3 separate regions of the Homo sapiens genome follow, and regions 1 and 3 are each linked to region 2. Evidence: fine-mapped expression QTL. A gene starts in region 2. Each other region holds a variant in brackets. All regions are shown on one strand. Distances are between the middles of the regions.

What was found.
Region 1: its variant is fine-mapped to the expression of STMN2 in fibroblasts (GTEx, PIP above 0.99).
Region 3: its variant is fine-mapped to the expression of STMN2 in testis (GTEx, PIP 0.99).

The regions. Positions count from the first base shown.
Region 1 is chr8:79,352,768-79,360,957 of GRCh38, reverse strand. No RefSeq gene overlaps it. Among named protein-coding and RNA genes, the nearest start is that of MIR12123, 25 kb to the right of the region's middle. The variant C/T (reference allele first, on the strand shown) is at 3,303.
Region 2 is chr8:79,606,805-79,614,994 of GRCh38, reverse strand. STMN2 (stathmin 2) reads right to left here and starts at 3,878. Exons shown (of 5, transcript NM_007029.4): 1 at 3,781-3,878. The coding sequence starts at 3,799. RefSeq lists a silencer at 1,569-1,628.
Region 3 is chr8:79,635,241-79,643,430 of GRCh38, reverse strand. It overlaps STMN2 (stathmin 2), which reads right to left. Exons shown (of 5, transcript NM_007029.4): 2 at 6,534-6,629; 3 at 1,881-2,053. LOC105375916 (a long non-coding RNA gene) reads left to right here and starts at 5,265. Exons shown (of 3, transcript XR_007060974.1): 1 at 5,265-5,350. The variant A/C (reference allele first, on the strand shown) is at 4,843.

The sequences.
Region 1 (8,190 bases), 250 kb after region 2:
GTGCAGTGAAGAATTCAGTTAACTCAAGGAGAGGTCTGGCCTTTACCTTCAGCTACTGAGAGACGATCTCTAGTCCCTGGAAATATCATGCCTGATAGGAATGTCTTTGCTTGGGGAAGGGACTGAAGAATAAAGGAATTAGCCTGAAATTCTGGGAGGTACTGGAGACTAAAGGGCAGCCACGTGAATAGTATGTGATCAAACCCCCATAAAACCTCTGGACACTGAAAGCTTGGGTGAGCTTCCCTGGTTGCCAGTACTCTGAATTGTTTCACATCAATGCTGGGAAGGTCACATATCTGTGATTCTGCAAAGAGAGGACAACAGGATCTGTTTGTTTGGTACTGATACAGACAGGAGACAGGGAAGTACTGGGTGGAAGAGGGTGGTTCCCAGACAAAGGCCCCAACCTCAAGCCTGCATACCTGTGGCCCTAAATGAGAGCAGGCATTCCTGTTTTTGCACCCAAAAAGTTGCCTTTTGGCCTTCAAGGCCCCCTTAAACCCCGAACTCCAAGCTCCAGAGCAGACCAGCAAGCCAGCAGAAAGGAGACAGATGGCTGAACGACGTGGCAGAGAAAGGGAGAGGAGAGGAACATCTGAACGCCCGGAGGAGTTCGGCTGGGGCGTACAGAGTGGCGTCCAGCCTCTCGGCAGCTGGATTCCAGGGGAGGATCGCTTTCCCACTCCATCCCCCACTTCTGACTCCCCATCCATCCTGCTGAAAACCACCTCCACCACTCAGTAAAACCTTACATTCATCCTTCAAGTCCGTGTGTGCCTCGATTTTCCGCGGATGATGGACAAGAGCTCGGGATACAGGAAGGCGTCACAGTGGCCTCTGCCCTTGCGAAAAGGCAGAGGGTGAGCTGATTAACACTCAGGCCATCTGCGGATGGCAAAGCTGAAAGAGCTCTGTAACACTGGGGTTGCAGACACACATCCCCAGACACTACCGTGGAGCTGGAGCTCAAAGTGCTCTCCTGGCTCCTGCACCTGCCGGTCTGCATGCTCACGCTCCCTCAAGGGGTTTGAGCAGCGGGGCGACTGAACATTTGGGCCACACTCCTGTCACACTTCCTGCGAAGGGGATAAGGAACCTAGAAAATGTTTCAGTACCTTTTCTAGACTCTTTCTGGTATTTTCCTCCCTTGGCTGATTTTGACTGTTACTCTTTCTCTGTTGTATATCATGACCATGAGTATAACAGCTTTCAGTAAGTTCTTTTAGTCCTTCTAGTGGGTTATTAATCCTGAGGGTGGTTTTGAAAACCATTCCCCTATATACACACACACACCAGATTTGCAATTGATGTCAGAGGTGAGAACGGTCTTGTATAGGCTGTATTCCCTTCAACTTTGCAGTTGGCTAAATTCAATGCAGGTGTTCATCAGAGATAGTCACAAATATTTAAAGTCTCCTTCCAAGCACTATGCAATAGAGGTATAGTATGTCTGTTAAACTGCTGCTGTTTTAGATGACTGAAATTTGGGGATTGTTTGTTACTGCAGCATAACTTAGACATCCTGACAGATGAGCACACAAAAATAAAACCTTTGGCTCTAAATTAAAACCAGAAGAGTAAATTTATTTTTCTGCATTTTTGTAGGCATTTTCTATGAATATGGATTTTGTGGTTACAGTTCTGTGCTATCTTTGTTGAGTAAATCAACCCATAATTTATTATCTAATATCAAGTGTCTTAGTCCTTTTGGACCCCCATAATAAAATACCATACACTAGGTGTCTTATAAACAATGTGTCTAATAAACAATAGAAATTTATTTCTTACAGTTCTGGAGGCTAAGAAGTCCCAGATCAAGCTGCTGGTAGATTCAGCATCTGGTGAAGTTTGCTTCCTGGATCATAGCGTCTTCTTGCAGCGTTCTCACATGGTGGCAGGGACTGGGGAGCTCTCTCATGCCTCTTTTAAAAAGGAGTTAATTCCATTCATGAGGGCTCCATCCTTATGACCCAATCACTTCCCAAAGGCCTCACCTCCTTATGCCCATCACCTTAGGGGTTAGGATTTTAACATATGAATTTTGGGAGGACACAAATATTCACTCCATAGCATCCAGTTATGATTTTATTGAAAATTAAGCATAATCTGAGAGTAGGATTTTTCTAGACTATCATCTTTATTTTTCTACTCATATTTCATGTGTTTATGTAACATTTCCTTGAATAATGTGATCATAATACAAATATAACAGACATAAAATAGTTGAAAACTGAATAATTAAACTCTTAATAGGCACACAACTCAACTGCAAGAGGAAGTGTTCAGGTATTCAGGAGGGTAGTTTAAGATTGGAGAGTGTTCAGTGTGCAATGAGCATCTGTATTTAAATTTTACATAAGAAATGGAAAATGTTAGTTAAGAATAAGAATTAATTAAATGGTAGTTGGTTAGAAGAGCTTCTGCAGTAATTGATTAAGAAGATAAGGGTTGGAGGTCAATACTAGTTCTGATACAATTTAAAACTTTAAACCATGTGCTGTATTTTGAATTATAACACTAATCTGTAATCACTTGTTTTAGCATTTAATTTCTGGTCTATTTTTCTTAATTTCACTTAAATTACAGTATGTATTAAAACATTATTAAGAGAAGGATAGAATAAATAACAGAAGACTTTTTGCATTATTAACAATTTAATCTCTGACTCAAGGTAGTGACAAGTTACAAAGACAATTTGCATTTGCATGTTACAAAAAATAATTTTAGAATTGTCAATGTATGACTGAATAGAATGACAAGCCAATTAACGTATATCTCTAGCAAGGAGTTATGGGGGAGTGACTTCGTTTACCCAAATAATTACTTTAGTTTTTCACTCTATCTCAGCTAGGTAGAGATAGCAGTAACAATGTTTCAAGGACGTGTTAGCTGGAAGGTGCTATGGGCTCTATGGATTAAAGTGTTCCTATCCCCCATGAAGCTCCTTGATACTGACAATGTTGGGAAAAGCCTTGTGACTTTTTCAATCATGGAATCATAGAATTTAATTCATGAGGGCTTATTTAGGCAGCCCTGTTGTTTTACTAATGAGGGATTTACATGTGTGAGAAGTTATTCTGTCTTGCTCAAACACAAATAACTAATGGAAAAATCACATTAAATCCAAGGTTTCTTGCCTCCTGGGTCAGTTCTCCTTCACTGTGCTTTATCATCGTTTCTAGTCTAGAAAGTTGTTGCATACCTAAGTGTTTCATCGCTAAGCCTGCTGGCTCCATATTTTATCACCTTATCTAGCCAATGTTGATTTTTCTTTCGCAAACTCTCCAACAACTAGTTCG[C/T]AGGTTTTTCTGTAATCTGCTTTTATTTCTCAATAATATTTTCTGACACATTTCTATGTCAAGAAATATGGAACTAAATCATAATATTTAAAAAATGTATAGTAATCTGTTATGTGAGTGTATGTATGTATAGTAATCTGTTATGTGAGTGTATGTATCTACACCATAGAATATATTTTTTAAAATAACCAGTTCTTGCTCGGTAGAGGGTGGTGGTGGTAACTGCCTGACTATCCCCTGCCCTCTGATCCCTGACATAGCTGATTGAGACATGGGTGGAAATACTGATGTTCTGAAGTTTCACAACTGTATTTCTAAGACAGCATCTGTTTTCATTTACCCTGTTTAGCACTCAGTGAGCCCTTCTATTTAACAACTATTGTTTTCCTTGAGCACTGGGAAATTTTCTCATATTATTGTTCTTATTTTAAAAATATCTTCATCTTCTGTGTTCTTTCTTCTCTTTTAATGAGACTCCTGATAATAGGACCTTGGATGCTCTTCTTTTTCGGTTACTATAATTATGTAACAAATTACCCCAAAACTTAGTCCCTTAAAGCAACCTTTCAGTTTTGCTCATGATTTTGTAAATCATGAATTTTGGAAAGACTGGTTAGGCAGTTCTCACTTGAGAGTTCTAATGCAGTTGCTGTCAGATTTCACTGGAACTGCAGTCATCTGAAGGCTAAGCTGAGCTGGATGGTAAAAAGATGACTCCTCCATAAGGTGGCAATTGGTGCTGGCTGTTGGCCTGCAGATCAGCTGGAGCTGTCAACTGGAGTGCCAGTGTGTGGCTTCTTCATGCAGCTTGACTTCTTTCTTCAGAAATTGGTTGAATTCTATAAGCTTCTGATGACCCCATCCATTGTAGTGGTTTTATGTTACACTTACTGAATATCCCTTTGCTATCATATGTTTTAAAGTAAGTGTTTTAGGAAAGCATAGCATAGTTACAGAAATGCCCAAAGATCTTTTAAGTTACTAAATTTTCATGATATGAACACATTCATGTAACCAATACCTAGATCAAGATGAAAAACATAACCAGCGCTGCAGAAGACTGCAATCCTAGAGTCTCCTGCAGAACCCCTCCTCACGCTCCTTGCTTCAAACATCGTAGATTAGTCTTGCTTGCTTTTGGATTAATTTTAATGGAATCAGTATGTACTCTACGTCCAGCTCCTTTTGCTGCACATTATGTCTGTGTGAGTCAATAACATTTGTTGATTTATTATCCTTGTTATATAATTACATTGTATGAAAATGCCATAATTTAATTGCCTATTTTACTGTTAATGTACATTTCTTTCAGTTTTTGGCTTTTATCAGTAGTACCTTATTGATTCTAATAGCTTATCTGTACATTCTTTTTTTGTTTTGTTTTGTTTTCTGACTTCCTCTTAAAATACAGTTTATTGCCCTTGATCTTTAGTTTCAAATAGTAACTATTCACAGTAAACAATGTGACACAGTAAACAACATGTATAGTAAACAAAGTACAGAAAAACAAACAGGAGAAAACAATTTGCCCCTTGTACTTCACCCAGAAGAGCCACTGCTAATATTTTGATGTATTTCCTTCTATTTTAGTTGCAAACTGTAACAACCGTTAAATAAATAAATACAATGAATTTGTAAAGTTTACAAAGTAATACTAGGAGTGATGATTGCACAACATTGTGAATGTACTAAATGCCACTGAATTGTACACTTTAAAATGGTGAATTCCACATGATGTGAGTTTCACATCTATTAGCCTCGCAGGCTAGGAATACTGCCAATACCTCAGGAACCACAGAATTCATCATCTCTTTCCTTTTCCTTAAAGTATGACCTCCTGTGTGAGCCCTTCAACAAACTGTTTTTCAGCTTGTCCTGCTTTTGAACTTCATACGGATTGAGGGAGACCGTGTGTATTTTCCATGGTTTGCTTCTTTCTCAACACTGTCTCTTTGATAATGATGTGATGAATTACTCATTTTCACTGCTGACTAGAAGCCCACTGTGTGGAGGTCCCATCACTCAGCTGTCCACTCTGCTGCCACTGACACATGGGCAGTTTTGCCCAGGAGCAGGGCATCACAAACACCCAATTGGAGTCCAGTGTGACAGTTTTTCCAGGGCCTGTCATTGTACAACACATCATTTCACTTTGTTTTTCTTTTTTTATTATTATAATTTAAGTTTTAAGGTACATGTGCACAACGTGCAGGTTAGTTACATATGTACACATGTGCCATGTTAGTGTGCTGCACCCAGTAACTCGTCATTTAACATTAGGTATATCTCCTAATGCCATCCCTCCTCCCTCCTGGTGTGTGATGTTCCCCTTCCTGCGTCCATGTGTTCTCATTGTTCAATTCCCACCTATGAGTGAGAACATGCGGTGTTTGATTTTTTGTCTTTGCGATAGTTTGCTGAGAATGACGGTTTCCAGCTTCATCCATGTCCTTACAAAGAACACAAACTCACCATGTTTTATGGCTGCGTAGTATTCCATGGTGTATATGTGCCACATTTTCTTAATCCAGTCTACCATTGTTGGACATTCGGGTTGGTTCCAAGTCTTTGCTATTGTGAAGAGTGCCGCAATAAACATACGTGTGCATGTGTCTTTATAGCAGCATGATTTATAATCCTTTGGTTATATACCCAGTAATGGGATGGCTGGGTCAAATGGTATTTCTAATTCTAGATCCCTGAGGAATCGCCACACTGACTTCCACAATGGTTGAACTAGTTTACAGTCCCACCAACAGTGTAAAAGTGTTCCTATTTTTCCACATCCTCTCCAGCACCTGTTGTTTCCTGACTTTCTAATGATCGCCATTCTAACTGGTGTGAGATGGTATCTCATTGTGGTTTTGATTTGCATTTCTCTGATGGCCAGTGATGATGAGCATTTTTTCATGTGTCTTTTGGCTGCATAAATGTCACAACAAAAGCCAAAATTGACAAAAGGAATCTAATTAAACTAAAGAGCTTCTGCACAGCAAAAGAAACTACCATCAGAGTGAACAGGCAACCTACAGAATGGGAGAAAATTTTTGTAATCTACTCATGTGACAAAGGGCTAATATCCAGAATCTACAATGAACTCAAACAAATTTACAAGAAAAAAACAAACAACCCCATCAAAAAGTGGGTGAAGGATATAAACAGACACTTCTCAAAAGAAGACATTTATGCAGCTTATCTGTACATTCTTTTAGATTTTTTCGCCTAGTCAATTATTTTGTAAATAATGACTTTCACAGTAATTTTAGAAAGCTTTTGTGTGGGAGAAAATATAAATGCACTTATTTAGATTGCCTTCTTGCACCAGAAATCTGGAAAGCATGGTTTCACGAATAGATACATTACTAAACCTTCCTTCAGAAGTGTTCTATCAGTGTGTCTTCCTAACAGTGTGAATGAATAGCAGCTTGGTTATAGCTTTTCTGATATTCTATACTTTTCCACATTTTTAATATTTGTCCATCTCTTACCCCAAAACAAAACCTTTGAAAAATGTATTAATTATTGAAAATTTGCATTTCTTTTGTAAATTGCCTTACTATATTCTTGATCATTTTTCGAGTGTCTTATGCATTAAGATTGCATTTGATGTACAAGAAATTTGACACACAGTGACTTAAATAGGTGAGGGTCAATACCGTGACCCTACAAAGTTTTCATGACATTCTTAGGATGTGGCTTTCATTTCATAGTAGTCCCCTTGGTGTAAGATGACTATTCTTCCTCCGGCAGCAGGAAGGAGCTGGGGTAAAAGCTCATGCCACTTGTGTCTCCTCCGGTTTAAAGTTTTCCCTGAAGCTTTGTCCTGTGACTTCTGCTTCTATATGACTGTCCAGAACTAGGTCATATAGTGCTCCCTCACTGCTGTGGAGTAGGGAATGTAACTAGAGATGGTGTAATTGCCACTTCAAACAAGATCAGGCTTCTGTTTGTAAAAAAAAAAAAAAAAAAAAAAAAAAGGAAGAGTAGACATTGATTAGGCAACAGCAAAATCATTTATGCTACACCAGTTCAGTTACCTGATACCAATACACATCTTCTTTTCATACATAGAATAGATTTACCTTCATTGCAAGGCAGTGTTCCAGGTGATGTGCCTCATGATCTGGTGACCTATAAGCTAACTGTGGACTAGAGTTCATCCCATATGGAGTTTGGGAGTATGAATGGTACCAGGGAGTTGTCCTGCCCTGAAGCAAGAGGGCTGGGCTTTTATACTAATATCAGTGAGCTGTTAGCTGCTGGTCAGCACTCAGCAACTGGGTTTTGTGTAACTGCGCAGACATCTGAGTCAGGTGGCTTTAACTGGCAGAGAGCAAGTCTCTGGAAAGGGGTACAGTTGGGAGACATTGGCAGCCAACAGCACAGCAGCTGGGCCTGGTGAAGGGAATCGGGGCAGGTGCCCAACACAGAACACATCAGAGAGCAAATCTGGCAACTCCTGGTTCTTCTCTCTAGGTTTCCTCCTTAATCCTTTATTTTTCCTAGCTTCTAATTCTTCTCTGTGTGCATGTTGCAGGGCAGAAGGGGAGGATTCTGCTTGTCCATTTCTTCTACTGCCTCTTCTGAGGTAGGCTGAGGAGAAGATGTCTTTTCTTGGGGTTCCTCTGCTTTCTAAGGTCTCTTTATGGATGCAACTTGTGGACTTAGAGATGAATTTAGGGGTTCAAAAATCACAAGCTGTTGCAGCCAGGCCTGGGGTTTTCTTGGCAAAGCAAGTTCCACAAAAGCTTTCTATTTGTTTCCAGTCATTTCCATGTGCAAATGACTACAGTTAGGATGTTTCACATACATAATATTTAAGCACGAAGGTTGCCTAGTTTTACTCACTGAACTCATCACTCAGTTCATCCCCTCCCCCATTGGAATA
Region 2 (8,190 bases):
TCCTGAATCTGAGTAAATTGTAGCCTCTTGTAGCATTTTTTAATCACTGAGAATGAGCTATTTGATGGAAGTCATATTGTGCCAAATGATTAAATGCTTATTCCACCATCTATCCATTAGTAATTTGAAAAATAAAAACCCAAAGTAATTAAAACTGCTTTCAATGCAACAAATAAAAGTTTGCTAAAAATATTAATGAGGTAATAGCTGTAACAATAAAAACACTCATTTCTCTTTTAGAATAGAATAATTTACTACAAATCTGTAAGTCACATTATTGTAAAAAAAAACCATTGTGAATTTTGACTAAAGTTGTAGATTTTAATAGCACAAATGTCCAATCTTAATTATCATTTTAAAATATACTTTCTCTCAGAGAATTTTAACGTGCATAGACAAACACCACAAGGTCTATTAATTTATCCTATCATTCTAGCTACCTGCGACGTGTTACACTGGGACAGAGAGTGTTTATTGCAGGCTCAGCTTACTCACCTGGTATAAACTAAATACATGAGATTAATTGATAAACTACTGCCATTTCTTTCAGTTTTATCCTGAAATTCTGACCAAATCCTCAGCTTTTCATTTCTAGTTACTTATATATCCATTCAGAAGGTGCCCACTTCATTAGAAAAGATAATGGGGAATATTATATGCACCTCTTACAATCATGCTGAATACATAATTGTTTAATGAATCAGGAAAAAAGCACTCGCCCTGATAATTAATTATCTTTGAAATTGGAATTAATTTCAAAATCTATTATTTTAATACTGCAGAAGTAGTGTTTTTTTCATGATTTGCAAATGCAGTTAAATTATGGCCAGAAAGGATGCTTGCGTTTGTCATATTTGGGGTGGGATTTTTATTTGGATGGCGGCTACCATTTCACGATCCATGTATCTGTGTAGGATTGAGGCTGTATCAAGAATCAGCAGTTGGAAGAACAGTTTCAGGGGAAAAAACTTAAAATTTTGTGCATAAACTATATTTATATATTTATAGATATAACCTTATGTTGAAGATCATCTCAATTATATATGTGTATTCTCACCCATTGCAGCCACAAACAATTCTTTGCAGAGAATTTTCCAGCAATCGTTGGCACACAAACCCTGCTCTTAGCAAGCACTTGCACATGTATCTTAGCCACATGAACATACATAATCCTGGCAGGAAGCAAAAATATATTTGCTTTATAACTTAAAATGAACAACTGGAGACAAATTTACCTTTTTGTGGGGGAAAGGGATGAGGGCAATTAGGAGGAAGCAAAGCGAACGCAACAAGGGTTAATCCTTAACCAAGAGCAATCCACGTCCCTTTTGAACAAATGAGAACAAACAAGGCTACTGAATCATTAAATAATAACAACGATTTGAAATGATAATAATACTGATGATGACGATGAGTTTGCAGCCACTAGCCTGCAGCGGAAACCTTTCTGAGGGGTGCAGAAAGCGAGGCGAGATCGCCCCCACCACCCATTCTCAGAACCTTTCTGGACGTGCGAGTGAACTGCGAATTGTGGAAAGCGGGGGTAGCTCAGGACACTGCGCAGAAACCGGTCTCCCCGGCTGCACCGCGGGGGCGAGCGCCCAACTCCGGGGAGGGGAGCGCAGGGCGCGGCGCGGGGCTCTGCAGGGCTGGCTGCGCTCCACACACCCAGTCGCCACGTGCGCCCCCACCCGGCCAGCGGTAGGCGGCTCTGGGCCTCAGCTGGGAGGGGTGGGGCCGAGCCGCGCCCCGCTGGAGGAGCGAGGGTCTCCCTTAGAGAAGCCCCTCGCGGGGTCTCCATTCTGGAAAATCATAGAGAACAGAGGGTGGGCGGGGGGCTTGGGCTGGGGGAAAAAAAGCCCCGAGCTCCGCGGACCGTGGGTGGGCGAGAAGAGACAGCCCTCCCTGAATCCCTGGGAAGGGGGTCACCTCTGCGGTCTCGCGCCCGGGCTGGGTGGGGCCGCGCCTTTGTGTGGCCGGGCGGGGCTCGAGCCAGCTTTTCTGCAGAGCCACCCGCTTGGCTGGGAGGGGCTCGGTGCTGGGGCTGAGAGCCACGCCGGGGGTCTGCGCACATCAAGGGGTGCTCGGGCCGTTGTGGACTGCGGGGCTGAAAAAAGAGGTTCCAGGACTGCATACAGCTCAACTGCCCCTCCCATATTCCTCTTCCCCGCCAGTCTCGGAGCCTGAGGTCTCCCCGGCTCCGCGGGGAGGGTAGGGCAGGGCGGAGCCGCGCAGATGGAGTCCTTTCGGCAGCTTTCCCTGTCTCCGCATCCTGCAACCAAGTCCCGGGGGACACGTGCTTCCAGCTGCCACAGGACCCCAGGCCCCACCCTGCCTTTTCACCCCGGGGCCACTGAGCGCCAGAACCGTGGGCACTCAAGGCACAAGACCAATTGCGGATGAAGGCCCTGAATCCAGAATCTTTTCCGGTCATCCTGTGTCTCCACTGTCTTGTCTCTCTGAGCTTATGAAATTGCCGATATTTGGCACTGTCTGACCCACAAAACGGAAATTTCGCGTGGCTTAACTTAAGACTTTGACCTCTTTTGCTTTATATACGATTTCATGTCATCTCTATTATTATACATACACATGTCTAGGTTCTAGAAGCTTTTCCCGCAAACGATCAAAGGTCTTCAAAGAACCCTTTATCTGTGTCTATGTCTAAACACTCTATGTAATTTGCTTCCGAAAAGAAAAATGTTAACCCACTTTTCCCATCTCTCTTAAAAGCAGAACAATGAGGCCAGCGTGGGGAGGGCGGGGTCAGTGGTCAGGTCTCTCTTGGAAGCCGCGGCGGGGAGTCGGGAGCGGGGAGCGCGGGGCGTGGCGCCGCTGTCCCCGCAGGGTTGGGCTCCTGGGTGTCACGCTGCGCTCCCCACCCGACCCCCTTTCGAATGAAGATGCAGCACCGGGCGGGGGGGCGGGGCTGCGCGGTTCCGCACTGGGTGGGGCTGTCCGCATTGTGCGCCCAGCGCTGCAGGTGCCTCCCCCCGGGACCGCTGGTCCGCACACAAAGAAACCCCACCCCAGCGCCTTCGAAGCCGCTGTCCCTCCACCCCTCCCTGCCGCGCGCTTCCCCGCCCCTGCAGCTGCCCACCCGCGCCCTCCACGCCCTCCGCGACTTCCTCTCTCCTTCCCCTCCCTTGCCCTAAAACAAAGGAGCGGAGGTCCTACCCCCACCCTGTCCCCCGCCGTCTTACCTCCCTGCACCGCACCCCAGGACTAGCGGTTTCTTCGACGAGACAATACCGTAAAATGTGCCCAGTTCTCTCCATCCCCTCCCCCCGTCTCCACCCATCTTTCAAACAGCGGGATGGGACCGCTTTGACTTTGCAATTTTCTTTTTCCTTTCTCCCACCTTCCCTTTACCCCTTTCCTATTTTCTTCTTAAACTAGAGAAGAAATAAAAAAAAAAAAGGTCGTTATAAAGCACTTTCCAAAATGTCCCTTAAGCCCATTTAAGGCAAACAGTTAAGGTAGCTTCCTCCCCTCACGATTGAGTCCTAATTTTAAATATGGAAACAGAATAAATTCTCTACCCATAGGAGGGCAACTTACCCGCTTCTACCTTTTAAAAGAAATTCTTCGCTTTAGATTTCCATAGACCTCTTCTCTGCCCTCCCACCTCCCCCAGAACTGCCCTGTCCTTCCTGGTCCTGTGTTACCATTAACATCTTTTTCTTTATAAAATATCTCTGAATGCTTCTAGAGCTCAAGAGAGGAGGTGAGAGGTGGGCTCCAGGTAGAGCCGACGGAGAACGAGGCGCAGTGCCTTACCCATTGCTGTTTTAGCCATTGTAGGGATGTGCAGACGCTGAGCAGTGGCGAAGGCAAAGGGTCCGGCTACAGCAGCGGAGAGAGCGAGAGAGAAGACTGAATAAGGCACTGAGTCTGCAGAGTGGGACCGTGCTAGAGAAAGAGCAAGAGGCAGGAGCCCATGAATAATTATCACTCAGAAGCTCAAGCAGATTGGCTCCCAAGGTCCCCTGACATGACTCCCGCAGAGTCAGAATCTCCAAGCATTAAATATTGATCGGCCAATGGTGCTGGAGTACAAAGTACCAGAATGCAGTTTGAAATGGAAATCAGTCCTTCCCTGTCGGCTCCCCCCATTTTGGGGGCCTGATAGTACAGTCCAAGTAGAGTGGAGCTTTAAGCCCTGAAGCTTCCTAGGAGCTAAGAACTGGGCTGTGCCTACCTGGGAGCCAGGAGGCTTGACTTTGCTCATACATGTGCCATTGCACAATTCAATGGAAAAGGATTCAGAAGCTTGAGAAGTCCTCACTATATGCAGGCTGTTGGAAAATTCTGTTTAAATACTGTGTTTTCACTTTTTCATATTTTCTTTCACCTTTGGCTCTGTCCTTGGTTCTAGTCTTTCAGGGCTACCCTATGTCTGGCTATGGTGGCAGCTCAGAGCAGACTTGCATTATTGTCCTTTATCTTTTAGCACAGCTGGACTTAGGCGTCTCTAAACTCTTGAAGGTCTCTCAGGAGAGGGAAGCATGGTGTTTTCTTCCCTTGGCACAGAGGAAGGGGCTACCTGGTTGCTTGGGAATAGGGATGGTAATAATGGTCCACCTGGGGACATGGGGGAAGAGGAAGAAAGTTTAACCTCTGGTGCCTGTGTCCTGTCCATTTGTTAACACGGCAGAAAACAGGTTGGCTGGCTGGTTTGGGCATTAAGGAAACCACAGGTGAATGCCATGTTGCCCTGAAGGTGTAGGATTAAGTGGGTCAAAATTTTAGTAACCTTTCCAGGGCTCTAAGGAGAATGCTTTACATGGAAAACTTAGAAGAGATGAAAGGTGTGGTCTGGGTCATTATTTTTCTGAGATCCAGAGAGACTACGTTTATGTAGGCCCAGGAAGGCTGTGTTCAAGTTTCGGATTGAGCAATGTCGTATGTGAGGATCTTTGAGACTAGTTGCAAAAAATGACTTTCATTACAAACAAGGCATTTATTAGTTCCTCCTTCTCACTTAATGGATGCCAGTCATTCATTTGTTCTCTTTCACTTGACTTAAATATGTATTGAGCATTTACCATGTGCACAGCTCTGAAAATGGTGAGAAAAAGTTTAGGAGTTGCTGCATGAAGTTTTTAATTACTGCTAATTTAACTCTTCTGTAACTTTATTGAGCCAGTCTAATTCCATGCAGAAACTGGTTTTAATATTAGAAAAATAGGCAAAGAATTGCTAATTCCGACGTTTGAAAGCCAAAAGAAGAGCACATTGTTGCAATCATGAACAGGTATGAAACCCTGGCAAGTTTTTAATTTCAGAAAAATGAATGTATTTTTTTCTTCTTATTAAAATAGGTTTTTAGCAGCTTTCTGTCCAATCACATTTCAACTTTTTTTTCTATCCTCAGGAACAATACACAGTTTCAAATACATAAAACCAATTGAAAATAGCAGGGCACTCTCCTTGGTGCTGAAATGAATTTCTTCACCTCCTATTAACTTGTAAGACATTTTAACCTCATGGACATTTTGCTGACTGATAGGATGCTACTGGAACTGGAACAGTTTTGACCTGCTGAATCATGGGGAAAATAAAAGATGAAGTGGAGATCAATAAAATTATTTCTTGAACAGGAAGATTAGAAATTATATTTCCTATCTTTGAACAGGTCTGTGACTATGACACAGCAAGAGAGCAATATGGAAGTTGGCAGGGTCTGGAAATAAATAACCATTTTCTCTCTATATATAGGCATTTCCCACTTTAAATGTAACAGTTAATCACCTCTCACTGGAGTAGTTATCACTCATGAGGTGAAGGATCTTCAGCATGTCTGTGTGACTAATATTTTCAAAGTATTTCTCTTCTCCCCACCACACCCTTTCCCCTCAGGCTGTGTGTCATCTCTACACATTCTTCAGCTTCCTTGGAGAACAAGGGCCCTAAGTCATGGCATTAGTTTCTTTAACAACTGCAGTTGGCTGCTGAATGAAATCGATTGCACTTTTGATGACTATGAGGAAAACAAAACACTCATTCTACTGCCCTAAGGGTCACATATGTGACTCTTTTCTATTTCCGATTTTCTAGGTGTTAGCCACCTAACTTCAGTTATGAATGATTTTTAAATAATGTCAAACAGGGAAGAGAGTAGGTCAATATGATTTACCATAGAATAAAAAGATAGTAGGCAAAATTGTCAATCAGCTAAGAAAACACAAATAAATTCAAAGGGCTGTGCCATTATCAAATTGTTTTTTGTTTTCTTTTATCATTACAATATGGTATCATGCATATTCACATGGGAAAGTAAGGGTGAAATATGAACAGAAAAATTATTTCATATTCAATATGTTATTCACTTATTCATTTGTTCAGCTAATTTATTCAACAAATATTTATTTGATGATGTTTCAGGCTTTTGTGATGCCAGCCAAGCTTCTCCTTAATGTCTGAAAAATAGAAAGTGAAGGAAAATATAACACCCATCTCTTTAAGAAAATATTAATTTGGGGGAGTGAATATGATCTTGTGTATTGTGGATCACACTTTGTTGCAAAAATTTGAAAAAATAACCCAAACTGGCACTAATAATAAAAGTGCATTTGCTGTTTCGTCTAACCATATAGATAGAGTTGGCCCTAGAGGTCTGGAGGTGAGATCAGCTTTTCCTGAAGGAAATGGTTTTGATGGGAATGGGTGGACACTCAAAGAATAGGTACTACATTTGCACAGTATAAACTAAGGACAACCAGTATCTGTCGTGTGGGGATTTGGGTAGACTGAAGGGTTATCATGTATGAACTGTCTAAGCCATCATGGATATATAGTAATTTTAAGTACTATGACTATATTTAGTGTTTCCAATACATTTAAACCTTTGAAAGGTAGAGAATGAATAGTGTATATCTTTATACCCTTCCTAGTGGTTGGTTTCATGATTCACGTGGTAGACAGTTAAAAACAATTTGTGAAATAATAAATAATACAGTGTTGAAAATGATTCAAAATGGATGAATCCAGTGAGACCATATTGACACTTCTAACCTCCTTTGCTTAGCTTGTGTTGGGAGCAGGTATTAGGCTGTTTACCAGTGTTTATTTATTTATATCCTGCCCTATTCCCAAAGAACCTAAATGAGTAGAGCTCACAATAGTAGATGGCCCTTGTTAATTTTTGTTATCTTTAACAGCCAGCAGTAAGCTGGAGCTGTGGAAATCACAGACTTGCTAACAGAAATTTTAATTATTGTGGGTTATAGCCTAGTGTGTATTATCTCTGTGAGGAGGCCTGAGGTGTTGATTTCTTTCCAAACCAGAGAGAAGCAGTTGCTTTGGAGGATTAGCTGATGCCATCTAACACAGTCATATGATTTTCTGCTATTCATAATCAAGTGCCTGGGAAAGAATCCTAAAGTAATTATTAAAAGTTAGTGAGATAAGAGAAACATTGTTAAGGTCAAATTAATTGTTTTGATCTGACCTCAGGTGATTACAAAAGAAATGTGAGAGATAAAATCCATTGAATTTTTTTAGATGTTTAGAAATTTAGGATATAAAGTAGTTATAGCTGAAGATATTTAGAGATGCATCTAAAATAATCACACATGAAAAAATAGTTGACTTTTTAACATTTTGATTATTTTGCCATGTTTAAATTCTTATAGATTAATGAAAAATAAAAAGGATCATGTGTCCTTTAATAGAACTGTCTAATATGGTTTATTCAAAAGGAAAGTCATTCCAAGGAGGGAGAGTTGGTGTTCTTTATTAGCAGTGAGCTCTGTATTGCTCAGGAATTTGCCAGTGTGTTAGAGTTATTTCTGAAGTGTGGAACAAACACACTTCATTGTTTTCTTCTTAAATTAGTTATTTAAAAATAAACAATGATTAGTTAATTATTATTATTTTTTCTCTACCTAGGGTTTTCTTTATGTCCAAATGGGACTTGTATGTATTAATAATTAGTATAATTCACCCTGAAGCAAAATGACTTATTGAAATTAGTAAATCCTATTGATAGTTTTATAATTGAACTTTTCTGGAAATAAACTTGTTCTAATCATAAGAAAGGCTTGATATAAATTTAATGAGCTGAATCTTTACATTAAATTGATAATGTTGAAAACTACTCGCTATCTTGGCAGCAATTACTGTAACTAACTTTTTCCTTCTCTCCATGAGTTGATTTACAGCTTGAGTCCAGGGAGAACATTAGTT
Region 3 (8,190 bases), 28 kb before region 2:
TGCTTGGGTCAGAGCTTAAACTGCTTTGGGTGCAACATGCTCTCCACTGTTTTAGGTATTGCTTACATCTGCTGGCAGCAAAGTTTTGATAATGTTGAATAATTTATTTTAGCTTTACTATGAGAATAAAGCTAAAAATAACAATAAAAAAGCTGATAAAAATGTTTTAAAGCAACTTCCTGTATATATATATATATATATAGTCGAGTTAGTAGCTCAGGTTCCTGTTTTTTAAATCTAGAACAATGATAACTAGTATTTTATATATATATATATATATACACACACACATACACACACCAATATTAATATATAATCATGGTGTATATATACCAATATTAATATATAATTATGGCATATATACAATATTAATATATAATTATGGTATACATATACATATATACACATCACATATACACCAGTTACCATTGTTATATTTATATCTATAATTGGTATATGTAATATATAGAGATAGCTATATATATCTATAATATAGATATCTCTATATACCAATTACCATTGTAATTATATATATAAAAATTCATATATATATATATGACATGCTCATCGGACATTTGGAGAACATCACTCTTAGGTGAAAATTGAGATCAGCATATTACATATCATAGGAGGATTTTTTTTCAACTACAAAGATTAGTGTTTTCTTGTTTAGAAAATTTAATCTAAGGATTTCTAATGTTTGAGCCTCATTATTTGATAATACACATATTTGTGTACATATATGCATGTATATATGCACATATACTATACACAGCACATCTGTGTTTGTCCTGCATTCTCTCTTGGAGAATTCAATCTTTAGGAGGAGGATTATCTTCATTCTGTTTTTAATTATCCAACATAGAAGTGTCCAAAGTTTTGGCTGACTTTTTAGAGAAAACATCATAAAACTGTGCAGGGAACATGTTCTTAGTGATTACCTGATTCTAAAATTATATCATAAAAAATATTGGGAAATACAATGTGGGGATGAATTACATAAAAGAATTCCATTTTTGGATGATCGTGAGTACCTTGATGGGATTAACTACCATAACCACATGGTTGGAACAGACACATTCAAACAACTTCTGTTTGTGTACACAGTCCCTAGGATTTCTAAGTGTTCTCAAATAATACCCTTGGCTCTTCTTAGCCATGTGATTATGGAAAAGTAAAGATTTGGCAAAAGGAAAGCTCTTTAATATAAGCAGGGACCAATGGCAAAAAGAGAAAAATCCCCATCAAGTCTTAGAAAAAGATAAAGAACATATTCAAAGAACTCAGAGAAGGTCCTGATCTTGGAAGGACCAACTTCCAGGGCAGGCAGTGGGACTCTGAAGAGGAAAGGGGCAAGCTCTTGGCCCTTACCCTGGGCAGGAAAGATCTTGGAGGGAAGATCTGGTAATTTGTAATTCCAAGGAAAACCACGCCTGACAAAGGGGGTGACACAGATCCTGAGAGGGAGGAAGCAGCACTTCTTCCCCTCCCCACCACTGGAGTTCGCCAGGGCTGTGTTTTCTCTACAGTGCTTCTGCCTGATGGTCTAGGGAAGGGAGGCTTTTATAATAAGGGGATTCAATATACGGGAAGGGGCACTAGAGCACTGAAGCTCTTTGGATTTCTGAGAGCTCTGGTTTGGCTAGCCTAAAATTAGCATCTATCTTACAGTTTTTACCCCAACTAGCCTGGCTCTGTGTCTACTGAAAACCTATACATGTTGGCATGGCACAGGTTCAGCTGTCATTGCTCTCTGTATGTGTGTGTGTGTGTGTGTGTGTGTGTGTGTGTGTGTGTGTGTGCGTGCATGTGTGCCCGAGTGTGTGAGAGGGAGGAGCAGGGGAGGGAGAGAGAGAAGGAAAACCTATGGAAAAAGTTACCTTTCTTCTTTCCTCTGCAGCCTCCAGTTTCTTCTGGATCTCCTCCAGGGACAGGTCTTTCTTCTTTGGAGAAGCTAAAGTTCGTGGGGCTTCTGAGATAGGAGATGGTGGCTTCAAGATCAGCTCAAAAGCCTGGCCAGAGGCACGTTTGTTGATTTGCTTCACTTCCATATCTGAAAAGTGAACATTTGAGAATGTTAAGCATACAAAGCTTGCAGCATGGGTTTATTTTAATAATTTAGATTCCAGCAATTGGAAGTAGCGTTGTTATTCCGGGAGATAGGAATAAAATGCTGTTTATGAGCATTTGCTCTATGTTGTTTAGAACATATAAGACCTCTCTGTCTTTAGTGTAACTATGGATATATTTTAACAGAATAAATATTTACCATATTGAGAAATTTGACAATATCTGCAGGGAGTTGAATAACGGTAAGCATACTTAGATAAAAATAGCCTAAATTGATTTTAAATTAAGCTTTATTTTCCTTTTGAACAAATATGAGCTTTGCATGAAAATCAAGTAGCACAGATTTATTTGTTTGGAAATTATCGTAGCTGTAGGCCCTTTTTGGTTAGACGAGAAACATAACGGAGTTCTTCAGTTCTCACATATAATGAGATATCATTATCTAGATATGCGTATATATGCATGCACCATTATATATATTATCACCATTCCTGTGCTTAGGAATCACAGGAGCTTCGTTAGAACCAATGTAACTCCCTGAACAGTTGGGCATATTTGGCAAAGTCAATGCTGAAATGCAAAGCATCCTGCTGATTTCTGTTTTGCCCTTCTGTATGTTCATTGCTTCCAGTCATCAATCATGCACAGTGCCCACTCCAGGGATGACAACATCACTCTGTGATGGGGGTCCTTGTCTTCAAGATGCTTACAGTCTAATGGGGGCAATAAGACAACACCCCATTGTAATGTCTTTGCTCCTGTGTTGTTGCTGTTTAGAATATCCTCCTCTAGTGTACTCGGCTGGAGCCAGGAGCCAGGGATAGAGCCACTGTGGTGGAGGAGGGAGTGGCAACATCTACTAATCTAATTTATACACATACACATGGAATACTGTTCAGCCTTAAAAAAGTTGGGGGAAATCCTGTCATTTTTGACAACATGGGTGAACCTGGAGGACACTATGCTAAGTGAAATAAGCTAGGCACAGAAAGACAAATACCACATGATCTCACTTACATGTGGACTATTCATAAAGTTGAACTCACGGAAGCAGAGTAGAATTGTGGTTACCAGGGGTTAGGGGTGGAGACTGGGGAGATGTTGATCAAAGAATACATAATTTCAGTTAAACAGGAAGAACAAATGCAAGAGACTTATTATTGAGACGGAGTTTCCCTCTTTTGCCAGGCTGGAGTGCAGTGGCACTATCTCGACTCACTGCAACCTCCGCCTCCCAGGTTCAAGCAATTCTCCTGCCTCAGCCTCCTGAGTAGCTGGGACTACAGGCGCTTACCACCACACTCAGCTAATTTTTCTATTTTTAGTAGAGGCAAGGTTTCAGCATGTTGGTCAGGCTGGTCTCGAACTCCTGACCTCGTGATCTGCCAGCCTTGGCCTCCCAAAGTGCTGGGATTATAGGCGTGAGCCACCACGCCCGGCCGCAGAAGACTTATTGTACACCATGCTGACTATTGTTAATAACAATGTACTGTATTCTTGAAAATCACTGAAAGAGTAGATTTTTTGTTCTCATCACAAATAAATGACAGGTGTGTGAGGTAATGCATATGTGAATTTGCTTCACTTAGCCATTCTCTAATGTATACATATTTCAAAATATGCCATACACCGCAAACATATACAATTTTTGTCAATTAAAAAAAGAACTGAAGAATGGTTAGCCACTTATTTTCTATCAGTGGCTTATGTATTAAAGATAAGCAGATTATCAGACCCTTATGTTTTAAGCCTGTATAATACAAATTATAACATAAAATAGTATAATTTATAATAGAAAAGATGACAGCTAGCACCTGCTAGGACATTTATAATTACAGAACTCACAATTTAGTAAAATGCAATGATTTTTAAAAGAACCTCGCTGGTCAGCCCTCAATTTCAGATGAGCATTCTTTGAGTCCCAAACTCCATCTCTCTGGTTTTAGCCCACTGATCCTTGTTTGAAGTCTGAAGCTACCCATGATTAGGCCATTCTCTGTGGTGCACCACCATTTTTCAAGTATTTGAAAACAGTTATGTTCCATTTCAAGTTGTTCCCCCAGGCTAAACATCTTCAAGTGCCCCAGAATGACACTGTTTCTAGATCTTTACCACCATATTATTTCCTAACCTCTAAGTGCTCTCTAATTTATTAACGTCTTTTTAAAATTGTGGCAACCAAGCCAGCAGGTTATGTTCCCGTTAATGTTCTTTTAGCAGCCTGGTTAGTGCACATGGAGGTTGTGGTCAAGTAAAATGCCAGGCTGGCAGGCCTTGACCTCAGATCCTTAGCTGCTAATAGATAGTCTAGATAATACTAACTCAATAACTATATTGGAAATGATGTGGGCTTTTTCCTTCACAAATGTAAAAATGTTTTTCATTTTCCTGATGGCATCCAAGATTATACTTAAATTTTAAATACAATTTTATAAAAATTATGGAAACCTATGGATAAGGATTATAAGAGAACACGGGCAAATAAAAACAGCTTATTTGATAAGGTGATGGGGTTTTAAATGCCTTAGATTAGAGGCTCTGGAATTAGAACTGCCTATATTTGCATCCAAATAGTAAGCCCCTCTTAATAGCTGTGTGACACTAGGTAAGTTAATTAACTTCTTTATGCTTTTATTTCCTCATTTAAAAGATGGAAATAAAAAGAGTACCTTCCTTCTAAGGTGGTTGTGAAGATTAAATGATAAAGGATGCTGAATGCAAAGCACAAGCCATATACTTAGTGCTTACAAATGTAAACAATAATAATAATTT[A/C]TTGTTATAATGTTTGCCTGCAATAAACAAGTCACGTTATTATCTAACATAGAAATACCAGGTCAAGTTAAAGACTGCAGAAATTTGAAATTCTCTACGGACTCTTTTAGGAAGCACAGTTTACGAGAAATGTTGAATTATCTATTCAACTTTAAATACAGCTCAATAAAAATTATGGAAGCCTATGGAAAAGGATTATAAGAGAACGCAGGCAAATAAAAACAGCTTATTTCAAGAATCAGCTCACACATAACTTCACATATTTTCTTCCCCTTTTTTCATTCCCTAACCCAGCAAAAACCATCCCTGGCTCCTTTGTCCTAACCACTCTGTGTTCTACATTCTAGTCATTTGTGTAAGACTCTTCTACTAAGCCCTGAATTCTTTGAAGGTGAGGACTACGCCCTATGGAACTCTGGATCCTCAGTGACAACCCATAGTTCGACATTAGTCTCATAAGAAACATAGCTGGATCCTTCTTCACAGCTACATCTAGCAAATAATAAAGGTCTGTCTAATTTATTTGCTGACCGAATGAATTTGTACAAAGTAGGCATTGGCCCTGCATTCTAATGAATGTTTTGTTTGGAGACAGAATTCCTTTCACATGGAGGACATTTCCTTATGGAACAGTTAATTAGCATTTATGATTTTTGTGCTACGATAGAATAACTTTGGAAGGTAAATGCCTTTGAGTCCTTGAATAGGCTTTAAAGGTGCAGAAGGGGTTAACTGCCACAAGGTCAGTTTGTTTTGTCATTAATGTCTTTCTTTACATATATGGAAAAGAAAAATATTTGTGAGCCTGAGAGTTAGTAAAATATGCCTTAGGGATATCTAGGATACATAGAACTGTATAAAATATTTTAGTTAAATTGACTGAATTAGGTAAGGATGATGTTGATAATGATAGCTATCATTGTAGAGTGATATAATGAGCTAGGCTTGGTTTTGCATATTTGACTTACATTAAACCGTTTAAACCTCACAACAACTCCAAGAGGAAGATGCTAGAGTTAAATGAGACTTAGAGAATCCAAGTATCTATTTGACCAAGATCATGTGGATTGTGGCAGAGCCAAAGTAAGCAAAATGAATCAGGATAAATCAAACCTAAAGAGTTGCACCTCAATCATGTTAATTGCCATGCTAATTCTTTAGGCTTTTCTTTTCAGACCCTCTTTATCTAGGGCCTCAGTCGTAAGTCAGTTTTATTTATTGAGCCAATTATTATTATCATTAGCTGGTTGACATGTATATACAAAGTATAGAAACTTTATAAAGACTACAATAAAGCAAAAACAATTATGGTTGTTGATTCTTTCTCTTGAGTTTTCTAAGTATAAAGCATTTTCTTACAAATTATGATCTACTCCAATTATGGCTTAGCCTATTAAATTATTTGCAAAGAAAGACCTTAGACATATTGTGGATGTTGATATGCTGGATGTGGCTGTTAATAAGAATCCATCCACATTTCTTAACAGACATTGATGTGTTGTTATTAGCACCAAATTCAAACTGTTTTCAGCAATAGGTAATCAATTGGACATAATAGCTAGACACGGCAAGTCAATAGTGAGAGCTACAAAATATTGATGTAATTATATCAGGAGCTGTAAGAAACAAATATATGTCAACCTTTCCAAATGATCTAGCTAGCAGGGGTATGTCTATCCTAGGTTACTCACCATCGTAAGTATAGATGTTGATGTTGCGAGGTTCCGGGTAAAAGCAAGAGCAGATCAGTGACAGCATGGACAGCTCCTTCATTTTTTCCTTGTAGGCTGAAATGAAAAGCTGAAGATTAGTATATTTCATTTTTTCTGAATTTCTCTTTACTGCTTCCTTTAATTTGAATAATAATTATTGCCTCCTGCAGAGTGAATATTGCCAGGTAGACTCCTTTGCATTCTTTCACTAAATATAAAGGAATGCAAGATGTCAACAGAATTCTGAAGTGCATGTTCCTTAGTGCAGAGGAGATCAATTGCATAGTATAGCAGGTTAAATAACAAGAGAAAGAAAGGGAGTTAGAAAAACAAAGGAAGGTCGAAGGAATTAAGATCTAGCAGGATAGGAGGGAGAGAGAGGAAACAGATGGAATTAGTGGAAGCAGACATGATTACCAGAGAGAGAGGCTCATTCTAGTAAATGTGCATGCAGGTCTATTGTACATAAGTAAGATTCCGGAGGGCTACTCTGATGGTTCAGCCTGAATTGCCACGTACTCATTTGGGAATAGTCAGATAACTCATCAGGATAGTTATTAAGCAAACACATTATCCAGGGTCCTATGTTGCTGCTTTCTCTTAATCTCCAAGTGCATTTTCTTATCTGTCCATCTTTTCTTTTTTCTTTCCTCTCTCTCTTTGAGACAGAGTTGCTCTGTTACCCAGGCTGTAGTGCAGTGGTGTGATCCCAGCTCACTGCAACCTCCACCTCCTGGGCTCAAGTGATGTTCCCCCCTCAGCCTCCCCATTAGCTGGGACTACAGGTGCGCTCCACCATGCCTGGATAATTTTTGTATTTTTTGTACAGACAGAGTTTCACCAGGTTTCTCAGGCTGGTCTTGAATTCCCGGGCTCAAGCAATCCACCCACCTTGGCCACCCAAAGTGCTGGGATTACAGGTGTGAGCCTCTATTTCCAGCCTCTTTCTTTCTTTCTTTTTTTTTTAATTTCAAGTTTTATTTTAGATACAAGGGGTATATGTGCAGTCTTTTTACATGGGAATATTAAATGATGCTGATGTTTGGGGTGTAAATCCCATCACCCAGGTATTGAGCATAGCACCTGATAGGTAGTTTTACAAACCTCTCTCCTTCCCCCCTCTAGTAGTCCACAGTGTTTATTGTTCTCATATTTATGTCCATGTGTGCTCAGTGTTTAGCTCCCACTTATAAGTGAGAACATGCTGTATTTGGTTTTCTGTTCCTGTGTTAATTCACTTAGGATTATGGGTCCCAACTGCATCCATGTTGCAGCAAAGGACATGATTTCATTTTTTCTTATGGCCATGTTGTATTGCATGCTTTATATTTACCCCATTTTCTTTATCCAATCTGCCATAGATGGACACCTAGTTTGATTCCATGTCTTAGCTATTGTGAATAGTGCTGCCATGAACATACAAGCACATGTGTCTTTTTAATAGAATGATTTATTCTCCTTTGGGTATACACCAAGTAATGGGATTGCAAGGTCAAATGGCAGCTCTGTTTTAAGTTCTTTGTCTCTCCCTCTTTCTACACACACCAAAGCCCTCGATCTGAGCTCTGATTACATCTGATAAGGATCTCCTTCCCTCCGTTGCAACCCAGCTTGTGTGCCAACCTTGCCATGCAGT